Homo sapiens: one gene and its partners. The protein of the gene in region 2 interacts with the protein of the main gene of each other region in a biochemical or structural test. Each region holds a gene or a part of one and is shown on either strand. Other genes may lie near its edges.

Region 1 (3,651 bases), on a different chromosome or scaffold from region 2:
CATTCAGCTTCCTTTGCTTCTCCCAGAGGCTGTGGCCAGGCCAGCTGGGCTCGGGGAGCGCCAGCCTGAGAGGAGCGCGTGAGCGTCGCGGGAGCCTCGGGCACCATGAGCGACGTGGCTATTGTGAAGGAGGGTTGGCTGCACAAACGAGGTTAGTACCCGCTGCCAGGGCTGGGCCTGGGGAGGGAGAGATGGGGGTAGTAGCCCCAGGGTCTGTGAGTGCCTGTGCCCTGCTGGGTGGGAGGGGCTGCCTCCCCTGGGGCTCCTGGGCTGGCCTAGGGTGAGTGTCCTGGGCCCCATGTCTTCCCATGGCATGGAGGGCACGGCCTCGGGGAGGCCAGGAGGATGAGGCCCTGTGCAGGGCCGGCCATCTGAGTGGCTTCCTGGTGTGGGCCCTGGCAGGCGGGGGAGCTGCTGCCAGCCTCTCTCCTGGCTTTCCTGGAAGGCAGCGAGGACACTGGGCTGTTCCAGGGTCTGGCACGCTGGCGGCCCAGGGCACTGCCCAAGGGCTCCTGAGGGCAGGGCAGGGCTGCTTGGCTTGGCCTGGTGCCTGCTTCAGGCCTGAGCTTTGGGGGTGGGGGGAATCCGTACCGCCTGGGCACAGGGCATGTTTGCCTTGGAGCTGCAGAGCTGGCTGAGCCAAGTCCCCCAGCCCCTGTGTCCCCCTCCTCACTCATTTGGCCTTGCAGCCTATGGAGGAGGTGCTGCCCGAGGGGCCTGGCCAGCAGCTGGGTGGGATGGGAGCTGGGGACATAGCCCCACCCCTTCCAACCCTGTGCAGGCCCTTCTGCCTCACCCACCCTCCGTTGCTCAGCGGGGTGCGGTGGAGTCTGGGTGGCTGTTTTGCTCCTCTGTCCTGCTAGGGTGGGCTTCCTGTTCAGGTCCAGGTCCTCTGGCCAAGTCACTCTCTTCTGCCCCAGGCGGAATCGGTCCGCCCTCTCCTGACTTCTTTTTCCAGACTTGTTCCCTCCTAAGTTCTAGTGATCTCATGCCAGCAGCCCCCCGGCTTTACGTACACCCTCTAGCAGATGGGTTTCACATCTGGTAGTGGGGAGACCCCAAACACAGCTGGAGCAGACAGGGAGGTGTGGCAAAAGTAGGTGTCACAAGATGGGGCATTGTGGGATGTATAGGAGCTCACAGAAGAGCAGGCCTAAGGAGCCACAGGAGCCTGGGGGTGGGGTGAAGGAGTGACCGAGATGAGATGCTGGGGGAATCAGGGGTGTGGCTGGCTGTGTGTTTGGAGTGTTTGAGTGGGCAGCTACCAGTGATGGCACGCGGGGCCTCGAGATGAAGACAAGGAGGCTGCAGACGCCTGTGGTCCTTGGGGAGCTTCTGGCTCTGCTTCCCCCCAAGGCCTCCTGCCGCATCCTGCCTTCTCCATCCCCTCCCCGTGTGCTGTCCCCTGCTTGTTCCCCAGGAGTCCTGCCACCTGTGCCTGGAGGTCCTCTCCTCACCTCACAGCCCTCTTTGGTGTCAGGGACCCCCTGCCCCGACCCTGGCCCTGTTCCTCTCTGTGTCACATAGTCTGCTGCCTGGGGCCGCTGCTTCTTTATCCTTGGCAAATGTGTGTTTGTTGATAGACTGTTGGATCTCGGGCTGACCCAGGAGATGCCAGGGCCTTGACTGCCCAGGGGCCCAGGCCCCAGTTACTGGGGCACCCATCAGCCAGCTGGGCCTAGGCAGGAGTGCTCCCCCGAGGCCAGGTGATTTTCAGGCTGCTGCTGATGTCGTGCCTTCAGGAGGGGCCTGGCAGGGACAGGACATCAGGCCCAGTGGGGCGTCCAGAGAGCTGAGTTTGAACCCTGGTTAGCCACTCTATCGCCATGACCCTTTCCAAGAGCAAGGTCATTGAGCTCCTTGGGCCTCAGTTTCCCCATCTACACCAGGGAGCGGTGGTGGGAGAGAGACCTGGTGGAGTGGAGAATGGCTTGTGGGCGGCCCTGAGTTGGGGTCCGGCCAGCCTCAGCAGCCTCTGGGCTCTGTCATCTGGCCCCTAGCCTCAGGCCAGGAGAGAGGGTCCTGTACCTCTACCCCCGGCTCTTCCTCCTCCATCCCCAGTGTAGTGGGCGCTGAGGATGGGAGGTGGCGTGGATATGACATATGCCCTTGGCAGGCATAGCCCCTCTTGTTGCCGAGAGCAGGTGGCGTCCACCCGCATGGCCGGCCGCTCCTTGCGGAGGAAAGCCTGTCCTCCGGGGCCTGCCGCATTTCGCCACTCCCGTCCCTGGGGTCCCCTGTGTGTCTTGCAGATGTGCTGTGCCACCCTCCTGGCAGGGCCAGCCCCACCCGCAACACTGGTTAGAGGTACTAGCTGCCTTCCTGTCCCTAGCAGGGCTGTGCTGGGCTGACCCCACCCGTGCTTCACAGTGCTCAGGCCTGGCTGGGGGTGGGGAGGGAGGGAGGGACGCAGTGACTGTCCTCCAGGCCCGGCCGCAGCCCCTTGCAGACGCCCTGTTCCACTCCCCCCCAGCCTTGCTCCTGCAGGTCAGGGTGCTTGTCTCAGAGGCTGGCCCGCACCTGTCCCCTTTGCCGGGACTCCCCACGACCGTGGCCTGGGGCACTTTGGTTCTCAGCTGAATCCCCAGGTGACAGTCCCACCACGGCTACTTGGGCTGGCCACACGTGGCGTGATGGTGCCTTCAGGGGTGATGTGGTCATTGAGATGAGAGGGGACGGGTATGCCCTGTGTGTGAGGGGTGGGGTGGCAGTGTCTGCAGGCTCCTTCTCCTGCTCCTTGGGAGGTGAGCGTCATCTCTGGGAAGTGGCCCAGGCTGCTTTCTGTTGTTCTGATGTGTGTGCTCTGAGTCAGAGGAGCTTCAGGGACAGAAGGGACCGGGCATGGGGACACAGGAGTTCCGGCTGCAGGCCTGTGTGGACCTGTGGCTGGACCCAGGCGAGGCCTCTGGGTCTGCACATCTAACAGGGAGATGGTTCCTGGAGGGTGAGCTTAGGCTGTTAAGGGCAGGAGCTAGTGAGGAGGCTGGTGGGGCCTATAGGGACAGGGGGCCAGATGTCCCCTCCTGTTTCGGCTGTCTCACTGGATAAGCAGCCCAGCTCAGCTCTGGCCATTGGTGGTCTGGTGGGCTCAGTGTTGCTCAGACGTTTGCATTTTCAAAGATTTGTTCTGTTGTGTGAAGTCTCCTGATTTTTGAAGGCTGACAATTTTAAAAAATCAATCCTGGGCCAGGGCGCAGGTCTGGCTGAACTCGGCCTCCAGCCTGCAGTTTTCCTTCCTTTGATAGCTCCGTGCCAGGCTTTGGCCAGAGGCTGTGTGGCTCTTTTGAGGTACTTTCCCCAAACAGCTTGCTCACCTTGCCCGCTTGCCCCAGTACTCCTGGGGCCGTGCACCAGCCTGGCTGCAGCCTAGCCCCGTGGAGAGCTGCCCTGGTGCAGCCCCGGCCTGGAGCCTGTTTTTGTCCACTCGCGGCTGTCTTCCTGAGCGTCCCCCCGTCCACATGGCTGGACCAAGTGGGTCAGGAGAGGGCCGAGGCGGGTGGCCGGGATGCTGGGACCCAGGATGAGGTGCTCTGGGCTCTCGAGAAAGGGCTGGGCCTAGGCCAGGAGTGGGTGCCGGCCGCAGGGGCACCACCTGGACTCCCTCAGGCTGGTCGCTGTCCGAGAGGGGCCGGGGAAGAGCTGCAGGCCTGG
Region 2 (3,651 bases):
TCCTCCTACCTCAGCCTCCTGAGTAGCTGGGACCACAGGCGCATGCTACCACACCCGGTTAATCTTTTCTATTTTTTTGTAGAGATGAGGTCTTACTGTTGCCCAGCCTGGTCTCAAGCCATCTGCCCACCTTGGCTTCCCAAAGTGCTGGAATTACAGGTTTGAGTCACCACGCTTGGCCTCAGATATATCATTTTATTCATAAATGCTCCAGTATGTTAACATAGCCACAATACCATTGTCACCTTTTAAAAAAACTGATAGGGCCAGACGCGGTAGCTCACATCTGTAATCCCAGCATTTTGGGAAGCCGAGGCAGGCAGATCAGGAGGTCAGGAGATGGAAACTATCCTGACCAACATGGTGAAACCCTGTCTCTACTAAAAATATAAAAATTAGCTGGGTGTGATGGTGCATGCCTGTAATCCCAGCTACTCAGGAGGCTGAGGCACGAGAATTGCTTGAACCCAGGAGGCAGAGGTTGCAGTGAGTCAAGTTCGTGCCACTGCACTCCAGCCTGGGTGACAGAGCGAGACTCCGTCTAAAAACAAAAACAAAACTGATAGTAATTTCCCAACGTTGTCAAGTATCCAGCCTTCCAACTTAGACTCTAATACTTAACTCCATTAGTCTCTTGGAGTTGCCATTTTTAGTGGATTATCTGCCACAAGGTTTGAGCTTCAACCTGGTGCTTACTGAGAAATTGGTTAATTCCAGCCAACCTTTTCCCTCCTCCATGGGGGAAGTGATGCAGGAGCAGAGGCTGGTTCAGTGGAAGGGTGGCCGTGCAGCCTGGTCTCCACTTCCACCCTTGCCCTGCTGCTGACTTTGTTGCCTCTGGCTTCACCTGCCCATCTCACAGGACAGCCGTGGTTCTCAAGTGGGGGCACTTGGGGTCCTGACAGATGCATTCAAGTATACAGCCAGTTTATTATTATTAACAGCATGTTATAATGCAAACAAAACTGGGCAGTTGCATCTGTCGACCTCCATAAAGCATTCCAAATCAAATACTAATTATGGATTTCCCCCACTTCCCTGCCTACCACAAAGCAAATACCCATAAAGACAGATGAGATAAAACCCTGGGCCAGGTGCAGTGGCTCACGCTTATAATCCCAGCACTTTTGGAGGCCAAGGCAGGCAGATCATCTGAGGTCAGGAGTTTGAGACCAGCATGACCAACATGGTGAAACCCTGTCTCTACTAAAAATACAAAATTAGCTGGGCATGGTGCCGCACGCCTGTAATCCCAGCACTTTGAGAGGCTGAGGCGGGCAGATCATCTGAGGTCAGGAGTTTGAGACCAGTCTGACCAACATGGTGAAACCACATCTCTACTAAAAATATTAAATTAGCTGGCTGTGGTGGTGCATGCCTGTAATCCCAGCTACTCAGGAGGCTGAGGCAGGAGAATTGCTTGAACCTGGGAGGCAGAGGTTGCAGTGAGACAAGATCACGCAATTGCACTCCACCCTGGGCAACAAGAGCGAAACTTCATTTAAAAAAAAAAAAAAACTGGAAGCCATGGCGGGGCCTTTAAGCAGGTGGGTGATGAGCCCCCTCTGGCTGTGGTCTACAGGCAGGCTGCTGGGGTAAGAGGGGAAGTTGGGATGCTGGGATCACAGTGGCTCAGAGGATGGGGCAAGGACATAAGGAGGTGTTGAGAGACAGAGCTGGCGGGGTGTAGTCGCTCACACCTGTAATCCTAGCACTTTGGGAGGCCGAGGCAGGAGGAACACTTGAGCCCAGGAGTTCGAGACCAGCCTGGGCAACATAGTAGGACCTTGTCTCTTATCTGTTTGAAAGAGAGAGAGACAGAGCCCTGTTGCCCTCCTGCCTTGTCCTGCCCTCCAGCCTACAGTCCTGTGCAGGCGGGGTGGGGTAGGGGGGTGCCCTCCTCCTTCCTGCTTTGCTTCTGGACCTGCATGCTGCTCTCTCTGGCTGGTCAACACCTGCTTGTCCCAGAAGCCTCAGCTGAAGTGTCAGTTCCTCTGGGAAGCCTTCCCTCCGCGGAGACTTAGAACTTGTCCCTCTCTCCCCTGGGACTCTTCACACAGCTTTCTAGTCCATTCCCAGGACCACTGGGTACCTGTCAGTTGGCCTGTAAGGAAGTGAAGGGTGGGGACACAGAGGCATGTGTCACGTTCACTTAGATCCTCACTGACCAAAAGGCAGGAGGGTTTCCTTAGGAAACAATGTAAACTTGTTTTCTATTGGGGTATAAAATCCACCTCAGGCCAGTGGTTATTCTCGATCAAGTGGGCTCCAGGAGGTCTGTCTGTCAGTATTAAGTGAAATGAGAGCCTCCCCTCCAGGCCTGGCCCCCAGTCCGGCCTCGCACCCCTTTCCCTGCCCACCCTCATGTTTTTGGTCTTTGGCTCATGACTGCACCGTCTCACCATGCTCTTGTCCCCTTCCTTGCAGGATGATGCTATATTTGGGATCCTTAACAAAGTGAAGCCTTCCTATAAATCCTGTGCCGACTGCATGTACCCTACAGCCAGCGGGGCTCCTGAGGCCTCCAGGGAGCGATGTGAGGACCCCAATGCTCCCGCCATCTGCACCCAGCCAGCCTTCCTACCCCACATCACGTCCTCCCCTGTGGCCCACTTGGCCAGCAGGTCCCGTGTTCCGGAGAAGCCAGCCTCTGGCCCAACCGAACCTCCCCCGTTCCTACCACCAGCAGGCTCCAGGAGGGCAGACACCAGTGGCCCTGGGGCTGGAGCTGCCCTAGAGCCACCAGCCAGCCTTTTGGAACCTTCCAGAGAGACCCCAAAAGTCCTGCCAAAGTCCCTCCTTTTGAAGAATTCTCACTGTGATAAGAACCCTCCCAGCACAGAAGTGGTAATAAAGGAAGAATCGTCACCCAAGAAAGATATGAAGCCAGCCAAGGACCTGAGGCTTCTGTTCAGTAATGAATCTGAGAAGCCGACAACCAACAGCTACCTGATGCAGCACCAGGAGTCCATCATTCAGCTGCAGAAGGCAGGCTTGGTCCGCAAGCACACCAAAGAGCTAGAGCGGCTGAAGAGCGTGCCTGCAGACCCAGCACCTCCCTCCAGGGATGGCCCTGCCAGCAGGCTGGAGGCCAGCATCCCCGAGGAGAGCCAGGATCCAGCCGCGCTCCACGAGCTGGGCCCCCTGGTTATGCCCAGCCAGGCCGGGAGTGATGAGAAGTCAGAGGCCGCCCCCGCTTCATTGGAAGGAGGCTCACTGAAGAGCCCCCCTCCTTTCTTCTACCGCCTGGACCACACCAGTAGTTTCTCAAAAGACTTTCTGAAGACCATCTGCTACACCCCCACCTCCTCTTCCATGAGCTCCAACCTGACCCGGAGCTCCAGCAGCGATAGCATCCACAGTGTCCGTGGGAAGCCCGGGCTGGTGAAGCAGCGGACACAGGAGATTGAGACCCGGCTCCGGCTGGCGGGCCTCACCGTCTCTTCCCCACTGAAGCGCTCACACTCTCTTGCCAAGCTGGGGAGTCTCACCTTCTCAACGGAAGACCTGTCCAGTGAGGCTGACCCGTCCACCGTCGCTGACTCCCAGGACACCACTTTGAGTGAATCTTCCTTCTTGCATGAGCCCCAGGGAACCCCGAGGGACCCAGCTGCAACCTCCAAACCATCAGGGAAACCCGCCCCAGAAAAC
Region 3 (2,682 bases), on a different chromosome or scaffold from region 2:
ATATTCACATTTTAGGATCAAGAAGAATCCTACATAGCTATTTTTTCAGATTATCTTCTGACTTAAAAATCAGTTCTCAAGTCATTCAGTCTCAGTTATTTTACTAATCTGAGATTGGTTAGTAAAATAATAGCTATTGTGATACTATAAAACCAAAATTATTTTGAACTCACTAATAGTAAGATTGAATGTTTACAAACAGAAGCATAGAGTCCCCAACTTAATTTTTTGACTTTACAATGGTGTGGAAATGACAGGCATTCAGTAGAAAGCATACTTCAAGTACCTATACAATCAATGGTTTTCACTTTCAGTGTTCAACAAATTACCTGAGAGATCCAACGCTTTAGTATAAAGTAGGCTTCATGTTCTTTGATTTTGCCCAACTGTAGGGCTAAGTGTTCTGGGCACATTTAATGTAGGATAGGTTAAGCTATAATGTTCATTAGGTCAGGTGTATTCAGTGCAGTTTTGACTTCGTATTTTCAACTTGCAATGGGTTTATCAGGGTGTAGCCCCATTTTAAGTTGAGGAGTATCTGTGTCTGAACTCTTACATTCCTTTTGAATATCCACTGAAGCACAATTCTAATAACAGCCAAGGCACTCACAATCACATAATTAACTTTGCTAGTTTTAAAATGTCCACTTTATTCCATATAACACTTAACCAGATATCATTTACATCTGAGGAAGAGATGGCCCATGAGACTGATCTATAGTAAAACACTCTAAGAAATGCAGTCCAATTTTATACACTTCCAGGCATCCCTAGACAAGTGTGTCACAATGCACAATGTGGAAATATAGGTATCACTACTACATTTTACATAAAAGGGAAGTATCAATAAACTTTAGAAAGTAGTAAATTCACCTGTCCCTTAAAATATGGGTATGCAATTGTTACAAAGCCATAGTAAATGGTTTATAAAATGTACTTTTATTTTATGTTACTCTGCTGTTACATAGGGCATAACATTTTCACAAGGCTTTTTTGGGACTACAGTCAATGATTAGCAACACACAATAGTGGTCCAACTCTCTAAATAACAATCACTAGACAAACTGGACACCCTCTCACATGTGCACAAATCTGCATGGAAAAGTACTAAAGTTTTAGACTTGGACTTGTGTACTTTAATTTATTTCCCCTTTCTAGTGTATTAAGAAATGACATGCACTTTAATTTGCCAAAAGCAATGCTTGTATTCTGGCAGCAACATGCTACTTCTATCACATAGTAAAGTGAATACCAGAACTACAAAGGCAGGAGGTGTAAGTGAATTTTTATTGGGAGGGGAGGTTGGCAACTTAAACAGCAGCAAATAAAGAGTGAATAAGGAAACTCCCTGTTGCCACAGATACACAAGACCTCCGTATGTGATACAGGAGCCATTTCAATTTGTGACCCCTAGACAGAGATGGCAAGTGCTTTTCCATTCAATCTAATACTTCCGGATTCCTACTAAAAAGGAATACATTAAGAGCATGGAAAAGTTGCTTACTGAAAGGAAACCCCCGAAGAGTAAGGGAGGGAATGTAGAAATTAAGAAGTTATGTGGAATACTCTTTAAATTGTAATTAACTACATTTTCTTATTTTCACAGTAATACAAAACACAGTCACTTGCAGAACTGGTTCAGATTACTTAAATACCAGATACATTTTTAGTCCTCTACATAAGTGTTTGGGAGTTACTTATGTTTATATGAAATGAAGCTATTAATACTTTTCTACAGCAGTACTGCACACCAGGAAGGCCAAGACAAACACAAATCAAGGAATGAAGTTTTCCCAAAGCTGCAGTGTGAAAAGACTATAAACAGTTGATTCCATACACATGAATGGGTTTCTTTGCTATAGGAAATCCAAGTGGAATAAGGAATGGAGATGTGTAAAAAGGTTTCTTGAAGGAAAGAAGGATGACACCCTGTATGGATTTAGTTTTCAGCCCCTTCTGCCGCATCACATTCTTCTCCTGCACTGTCTGATGTCCAAAGCTAGAAAAAGAAGAATCATATTAAGTTACTATTTCTAGATTAGGCAATTACACTAAGTAGTATTGTTATATCAAAATTAACTACAAGAGTAGTAAATTCCTCAAACAATGGAGATCTTGACTAAGACTGAAGTTCTCTCTCAAAACCCCAAAGACCATCACCTTCCCAAAGTACATCCTTGCAGACCTTTCACTATGCACTTACAAAATGACATACATACATACATACATATACCACTGGAGCATGGTTTTATAGCTTCCTTTTTATTTAAAAAGCATTTGGCCAGGCACAGTGGCTCACGCCTGTAATCTCAGCACGTAGGGAGGCCAAGATGAGAAGATCGCATGAGGCCAGGAGTTCAACAGCCTGGACAACATAGCAAGATCCCACGTCTACAAAAAATTTCAAAAACAAAATTGGCCAGGTACGGGGTGGTGTGTGCCTACAGTCCTAACTACTCAGGAGGCTGAGGCAGGAGGACTGCTTGAATCCAGGAGGTTGAGGCTGGAGTGATCCATGATTATGACACTGCACTCCAGCCTAGGCAACAGGGTGAGATCCTTTCTCAAAAAAAAAAAAAAAAAAGAGAAACTTTTTTAAAAAGGCACTCTACTTTCAGAATAAGCAAAGTGATAGTCTCTATTCCCAGCAGCCCAATGCTCTTCTTGAAAGCACTACTGCAT

The links.
Region 1: of the proteins of SSH1 (region 2) and AKT1, one has a biochemical effect on the other in vitro, tested with the Homo sapiens proteins (one study listed by BioGRID).
Region 3: the proteins of SSH1 (region 2) and YWHAQ form a complex in vitro, tested with the Homo sapiens proteins (one study listed by IntAct).

What each region holds. Positions count from the first base shown.
Region 1 is NC_000014.9:104,789,098-104,792,748, reverse strand, and holds part of AKT1 (RAC-alpha serine/threonine-protein kinase), read left to right. Parts: intron 1-26; 5' UTR 27-105; coding exon 106-151; intron 152-3,651. UniProt on the Homo sapiens protein: AKT1 is one of 3 closely related serine/threonine-protein kinases (AKT1, AKT2 and AKT3) called the AKT kinase, and which regulate many processes including metabolism, proliferation, cell survival, growth and angiogenesis.
Region 2 is NC_000012.12:108,788,021-108,791,671, reverse strand, and holds part of SSH1 (protein phosphatase Slingshot homolog 1), read left to right. Parts: intron 1-2,427; coding exon 2,428-3,651. UniProt on the Homo sapiens protein: Protein phosphatase which regulates actin filament dynamics. Dephosphorylates and activates the actin binding/depolymerizing factor cofilin, which subsequently binds to actin filaments and stimulates their disassembly.
Region 3 is NC_000002.12:9,583,347-9,586,028, forward strand, and holds the end of YWHAQ (14-3-3 protein theta), read right to left. Parts: intron 2,000-2,682; coding exon 1,940-1,999; 3' UTR 621-1,939; downstream 1-620. UniProt on the Homo sapiens protein: Adapter protein implicated in the regulation of a large spectrum of both general and specialized signaling pathways. Binds to a large number of partners, usually by recognition of a phosphoserine or phosphothreonine motif.